2 linked regions of the Homo sapiens genome follow. The protein of the gene in region 2 interacts with the protein of the main gene of each other region in a pairwise test. Each region holds a gene or a part of one and is shown on either strand. Other genes may lie near its edges.

Region 1 (3,500 bases), on a different chromosome or scaffold from region 2:
GCCTTCATGGATCCCAGCATGGTTTCTCAGATGATTGGCCTGCAGGGTCAGTGTTGACTAGCCTTTTAGTTCCTCTCTGTGAGAGCAGCACATACAAGCTGCTTCTCGTCTGCCATCTTGGCCCTATCCCTCATCTTTATTTTCATTTCCTTTGGCCTAGGTAACTTTTTTTGGTACTTTTTCATTTTGCTTTGCTTTGCTTTGCTTTGTTTACTCTCAATCTTTGTATCTCCTTAGAAGTTTAGTGTGCCTCGTGTAAAAATCATATAGCTGAATTTGTTTCTTTTTAGCCAAACTGAAAAATCTTTGTCTTTTATGTCTTTTAGCTTCCACTTTAGTCTATTTGTGTTTGTTGGATTTGTTCATATGTTTGTATTTCTATCTAAAAACTTATTTTTAAAATTCATTTTCTATTTGTATCATTTATTCTAGTGCTTTTTTCCTCCTTTCCTATTTTCTTTTAGATATATTAGATGTTTATAATTGTAAGTTTTTCTTACCCATTTCTTTTTTTCTTATACTGGTTTGGAAGTCATATGCTCTATTACTATTCTTATAGTGCTCACTCTTAACATTTTACCATGCTGACTGAATTTAGTAAAGCCTAAATTGATCAAGGTTTTACTTCTCTTCTTAATAGCACATGAACTTTATTAATACTATATCATTATTGTTTTTTTTTATTTTTACAAGCATTTTTGTTTTATTTTTGCAAGCATTTTATTTATCTACACAAATATTTCTATATACTTACATGTTTACCAAATTGTTTGCTCACTATTTCTTCCCTTTCAGATCTTCTGTCCCTAAAATATATCCTTAGTAATTTCTGTAGGAGAGGACTGCTTTGTTTAGTTGGAACATTAATACTTGTTCTTGTTTCTTTTCTTCCTTTTTTTTTTTTTTGAGGTGGAGTCTTGCTGTGTTGCCTAGGCTGGAGTGCAGTGTCACAATCTTGGCTCACTGCAACCTCTGCCTCCTGGGTTCAGGCAATTCTCCTGCCTCAGCCTTCCAAGTAGCTGGGGCTACATGTGTCCACTACCCTATCCGGCTAATTTTTGTATTTTTAGTAGGGATATGGTTTCACCATGTTGGCCAGGCTGGTCTCGAACTCCTGACCTCAAGTAATCTGTCTGCCTTGGCCTCCGAAGGTTCTGGAATTACAGACATGGGCCTCTATGCCCAGCCTTGTTCTTGTTTTGAGAGAGATTTTTGATAATTCCAGAGTAACATTATTTTCTATTAGCTCTTTGAAGAAATTTCACCCCTGTGACTTATTTTCTCTGTGATGTTGTTTAAGTGTTTTAGAGATAATGTAGTCATCTTATGAGTCATAGTGAAGATCAAATATATATAAAGAGCTTATTAGTGTTTCTAACACATATTTATCACTATATAAATAAATAACCTTATTTTTCTTTTTTCCCTCCTTTTTTTCTTATAATTCTTATTATTGCCAATGCTGCTCAGCAATTCACTAAAATGCATCTAAGTAAAAATTTCTTTTTATTGACACCACTGTTTATCCTGTTTGGTATACATTTTTCTTTCCAAACATGTGGTTCTAGGTCTTAAATTTTCTAGTTTCTGTACATTCTCAACCCTTAATTCTTTGAATGTTACATCTATCTTTTATTTCCATTCTCTTCTGGAATTTTGATTAGGAAAATATACTTTTTTATTGTATCCTTTATAATTTTAACCACCTATACTGTGTTCAGTTCCTCATCTGTCTATAGTTGGGATAATTTTTTCAAATATGTACTTTATTTATTTTTATTTTTTATTTCCATAGGTTTTTGCGGAACAGGTGGTGTTTGGTTACATGAGTAAGTTCTTTAGTGGTGATTTCTGAGATTTTGGTGCACCCATCACCCAAGCAGTATGCACTTTACCCAATCTGTAGTCTTTTACCCCTCGCCCCACTTCCATTCCACCCTTTCCTCCAAGTCCCCAAAGTCCATTGTATCATTCTTATGCCTTTGCAGCCTCGTAGCTTAACTCCCACCTGTGAGTGAGAACATATCATGTTTTTCATTTTTTTTCCGGATTTATTTCCCAATTCATTTACTCTGAATTTTGCTGTTTCTCATATGCTATTTAACCCATCCATTGATTTCTTAATTTCAATAATTTTATTTTTAAAATTTCTAAATATATATTTTTTTCAGATTTGCAGATTCATGTTATAACCTTACGTCGTTTGATCTTTTTATTGTAGCTGTTATTTCCTTATATACTTTACTTATAGTTATATTTTGTACCCTTTAATTATAACAACTAGTGTCCTTCAGGGTATTTGTTAATTTTATTAGCTCATCCTCAGTCATGGCTTCTTATTTCCCATTATGTGTTTGAGAATAATTTTGTAAGCTCATACTTGGTTGAATTTTATTTGCAGAATTTTGAGTAGCTAATTTCTAATAACTTGGGCTGTATACCAACAGCGTGGATCTACATTATTAGTCAGCTCAGTCTGCCATAACAAAATAACAGAGACTGGGTAGCTCAAATAACAGAAATTAATTTCTCACACTCCTGGAGCCTAGAAGTCTAAGACCAGAGTGCCAGCCTGATCAGGTTCTGGTGAGGGCCCCCTTCTTGCCTTGTAAATGGCTGCCTTCTTGCTGTGTCCTCACAATGCAGGGAGCGAGTTAACTCCAGTCTCTTTCTCTGATTATAAAGGCACTAATCGTATTACAGGGTTCCCGTGCTCATGACCTTGTCTAAACCTAGTTATTTCTCAGAGGCCCTACCTCCGAATACTGCCACATTGGAATTAGGGCATCAATGTACGGATCTGGGAAAGGAGTGGCACAGTCAGTCAGTCCATAACATTCACTTGTGCTCTTTTTGAGAGCTTTGGTTCCTTCTATTTGTGTGGAGCCCAGGGAAACTCTGATCTTTTGCATCTCTTAAAACACACTTTTTTGATTTTAGTGTACCATTCTTTTTCTCTCTCTTGATTTCTCTCAGCCCTCAGAAATGGCCTTTATTTTTTCATGAACCAAAGTTATACAGTTTTCCATATTTCAGGCCATGTTTTTGAAAGGCAAAACCATTTCAAAAGAATGTTCAGAAATTTATATTTGATATATTTTGGATTTAGTATATGAGCTCTGACTCTATATATTAAAAACTTATGGGAATATTGTTTATATTTATTGTTGACTAAATATCAGTTACAGCACTCACAAAGAAATAATACTGCTTCATTCTAGTTGTAATTATTCCAGTGTGATTTGTTTTTTTTGCCTGGCACATGGTTTAAAACACAAAATAAGCATATAAAACTTATATGAGAGGGTTTTTCAGCCACAGGCAGAAACATACCACAATAATTTTTATCCTATGCTAAGATTTTGGTCCATAATAACATGATACCCATTGGAAAGATAGATTTGAGAAAGAAGCATGCTTAAATAATTTTTAAATTTTTTTACATGCATGTTTTTGGATAAGTGTATTGTTCAATCTTTAATATTAAAAACTAAAATTCT
Region 2 (3,500 bases):
CAGCTAATTTTTGTATTTTTAGTAGAGACGAGGTTTCACCATGTTGGCCAGGCTGGTCTTGAACTCCTCACCTCAGCCTCCCAAAGTACTGAGATTACAGGTGTGAGCCACCGCGCCCAGCCCTAGCTAATTTTTGTAGAGACGAGGTTTCATCATGTTGGCCAGGCTGGTCTCAAACTCCTGACCTCAGGTGATCCCCTCCCAACCCTGGTCTCGGCCTCCCAAAGTGCTGGGATTACAGGCATGAGCCACCACGCCTGGCCAATTTTGTGAAATAATATTTTCAATCCTCAGCTGGTCAAATTCAAGGATGCAGAACTGTGGCTACAGAGAGCCAACTCTGTAGTACCTTATTGTGGAGTTAAAGGCAGGGTAGGATACTCTGGACAGAGGTTTTCAGGATACCTCTGGAGCTCTCCCCACACCATTAATTGTGTTTGTGCTTTTGTATCTTTCTCTGTTTCTCTTTTTAGTCTAGTGGCAATACCAGTGTATGTGAAACATAGTATCAGCTTTAAGGAGAACAGTTCTTGCGGCAGATTTGATATAACAATTGGACCAAAGCAGAATATGGGGAAAACTATTGAAGGAATTACAGTGACAGTTCACATGCCAAAAGTTGTGCTGAACATGAACCTGACACCCACACAAGGCAGCTATACATTTGATCCAGTCACCAAGGTACAGCCACTTCAAATCAAGAGTGAGCAAGTGTTTCTGCAATCTATTTTGTGATTTGTGGGGAGGAATGGAGGGAAAGGTTTGGCACCTTGTTTAAAACTAAAGTTCGTATCAAAACCTAGAGAGCATACTGTGCTGTGCTTCTGCCACTGGCTGCAGAAGGAATCCTGCAGCTGCTACTGAGTAGATGAACAGAAAAATGTGTCATTCTGTCCTTTTTCAGAGTGTGCCTTCACTCATCCATTATTAATCCAGAGCCTGACTCTGCTATCTAATAAGAAAGAAGTAAAAGCTTTTTTAAAAAGAGAAAACATTATGTAGATTGAAGAAGATATTATGATGGTCTATGAATTACTAAGTTTTCTATATAAATTGATCACTAAGACCTTTTTCTTCCTTTATAATTTAAAAGCATTATTTCATACTCTTTCACAGGGCTAGGAAAGTTGCTTCCTCACTCTACTTAAATTTTTGTGTAACAGAGGGTTTTCAGAGAAACTGTAGCAGATGATTTTCTCTCAGCTTCCTGATTAGCTGGTAAATATGATTGTTTTCAATAGCAGAGTCATTGAGCTACCTGATAAATGAAAAGACATGTTTTTTGAATAACATCATAGAATGTTAAAGATTATTTAATACAGTTGTAAGGATTCAAAGAACCTCCTCCTGGAGACCACACAGGGCTGAGAAAGGGAGCTTCAGATTCCTGGCCCTTTACCACAGCTTCAACTATGACAGCTTTGCTTTCTTTCTCATCTGCTGTTGAGCCTTCACACCGAAGATTTCATTTGAACAATGGGTTTCACAGCTAAAAGTTTTAAAAACACCATCTTAAGTCAATCTAATTATTTTACAGAAAAATAAACAGAGGCTGGGCGCAGTGGCTTACGCCTGTAATCCCAGCACTTTGGGAGGCCGAGGTGGGTGGATCACCTGAGGTCAGGAGTTCGAGACCAGCCTGACCAACATGGAGAAACCCCATCTCTACTAAAACTACAAAATTAGCTGGGCATGGTGGCGCATGCCTGTATCCCAGCTGCTTGGGAGGCTGAGGCAGGAGCATCGCTTGAACCTGGGAGGCAGAGTTTGTGGTGAGCCAAGATTGCACCATTGCACTCCATCCTAGGCAACAAGAGTGAAACTCTGTCTCAAAAAAAAAAGAAAAAGAAACAGGCCCAGAGAAAAGTGAAGATGGTTATGATGGAGAACATTTGAAATCAGAGGGCCTTAGGTTCAAATCCCAGCCTTACCTCTGACTAACTATGTGACCTTGAGCGAGTCATTTGATCTCTGAGCCTTAATGTCCTCTGAGCTTTAATTTCCTCATTTGTAAATAGAAGACAAAAGCTACTTCACAGCCCTCAATGAGACAACATATGAATAATGCTAAGCACGGTGCTAATACAAAAGAAAATGCTCAACAAATGTAGATTCTCTGCTCTCACTCCCCATTCAAAGTCACAGAATTAATCAGAGGTAAACTCACTGTAGATGCCAGATCTCTTGTTTTCAAGAGACTGCACTTCAGTTTGTACAGAAGTTTATGATATCTTTGAACTTTGTTTTTGAGGGTTTGTCTTTAATAAATGGTTCTATTTGTTTTTCATTTTTTGTCTTTTTAAGGTACTAACATGGGATGTGGGAAAAATTACTCCACAAAAGCTCCCAAGTCTTAAAGGACTGGTAAATTTACAGTCTGGAGCCCCCAAACCAGAAGAGAATCCGAGCCTCAACATACAGTTTAAGATCCAGCAGCTTGCTATTTCAGGTAAGGATAAGGTTGACTTGTAGTTAAGGGTAATTGAGTTTTGCAAGCTCATTTATTAGGCATTTAGAAGAGTAACAAAAGTTTCCTTCTCTAGAAAGAGCAGTAGCCCATTTGCCTTTTATACTGTGCTTGGTGGGGCAGTCTCACAGGCACCGACCAAATGATTTTTCAGAGCACCTTATTTCAAACAGCTTCCCCTCACCTCCGCCCTCATTTAAGCACCAAAAAGAGAGTTATTCATATTCACAGAAAGTAGAATTATACTTCACAGACATTCCCTGCCTGTGTGGGAATCTTAACCAAAACCATACCATCAAAGTGCAATAATTTGTAAATGATAGAAGAGACATTTCTTCCAAATGGTGGAAGGGACACTGGTTAATGTCAGATTTACCATATAGCGCTCATTGCTAACATTATATTGGTTGGGATGATGATAATTTATTCTTTTTCATTCTTTTTGATACAGGCTTAAAAGTAAACCGTTTGGACATGTATGGGGAGAAATATAAGCCATTTAAAGGAGTCAAATACGTCACGAAAGCTGGAAAGTTCCAAGTGAGGACATGAGAAGAGGCCAAAATTCCTCAGGACCAGTTTGTTTTCCAAGTGTCATTACGATGTATCACTATTAGGTACCAAGTGAGTGGGAATACATATTCTAGTTAAAGCATTTGTGTCTAGCTACACACCGCTAACAAAGTTACTTAGTTATCAATGTAGGATTCTTAAGGAGCTTTAAGCTAAGGAAACCTTTTAGTGACTTAGCTTATTTTGTATCTTTTCACTTAGGAAGATTTTGGAGGTGATTTTTTTCCATAGGAGGATACCATCTGGCGGCTGCACATTGTAACAGTAAAGGCAGAAAGCTGTAGTGATAACCTCTCTCCTAAAAGAGTTAACTGGTCTCATCCAGCAGAAGCTATCTTAAATCTGTGATGTGTCAGGTGCAGCCAAATATCACACCTTCTGATCTTAGCCATCCCAAACCAGTATCTGTCCCGAGAGGAAATTCCCCCCACCCCCAGAAGTTTACAGAAAACTGCCTCTT

Evidence for each region. The genes of interacting proteins can lie anywhere in the genome.
Region 1: the proteins of AP3M1 (region 2) and SPAG16 interact in binary tests that used the Homo sapiens proteins (3 or more experiments, as listed by UniProt).

What each region holds. Positions count from the first base shown.
Region 1 is NC_000002.12:213,924,464-213,927,963, forward strand, and holds part of SPAG16 (sperm-associated antigen 16 protein), read left to right. Parts: intron 1-3,500. UniProt on the Homo sapiens protein: Necessary for sperm flagellar function. Plays a role in motile ciliogenesis. May help to recruit STK36 to the cilium or apical surface of the cell to initiate subsequent steps of construction of the central pair apparatus of motile cilia.
Region 2 is NC_000010.11:74,123,329-74,126,828, reverse strand, and holds part of AP3M1 (AP-3 complex subunit mu-1), read left to right. Parts: intron 1-473; coding exon 474-681; coding exon of another isoform or gene 682-703; intron 704-2,304; coding exon 2,305-2,449; intron 2,450-2,918; coding exon 2,919-3,019; 3' UTR 3,020-3,500. UniProt on the Homo sapiens protein: Part of the AP-3 complex, an adaptor-related complex which is not clathrin-associated. The complex is associated with the Golgi region as well as more peripheral structures.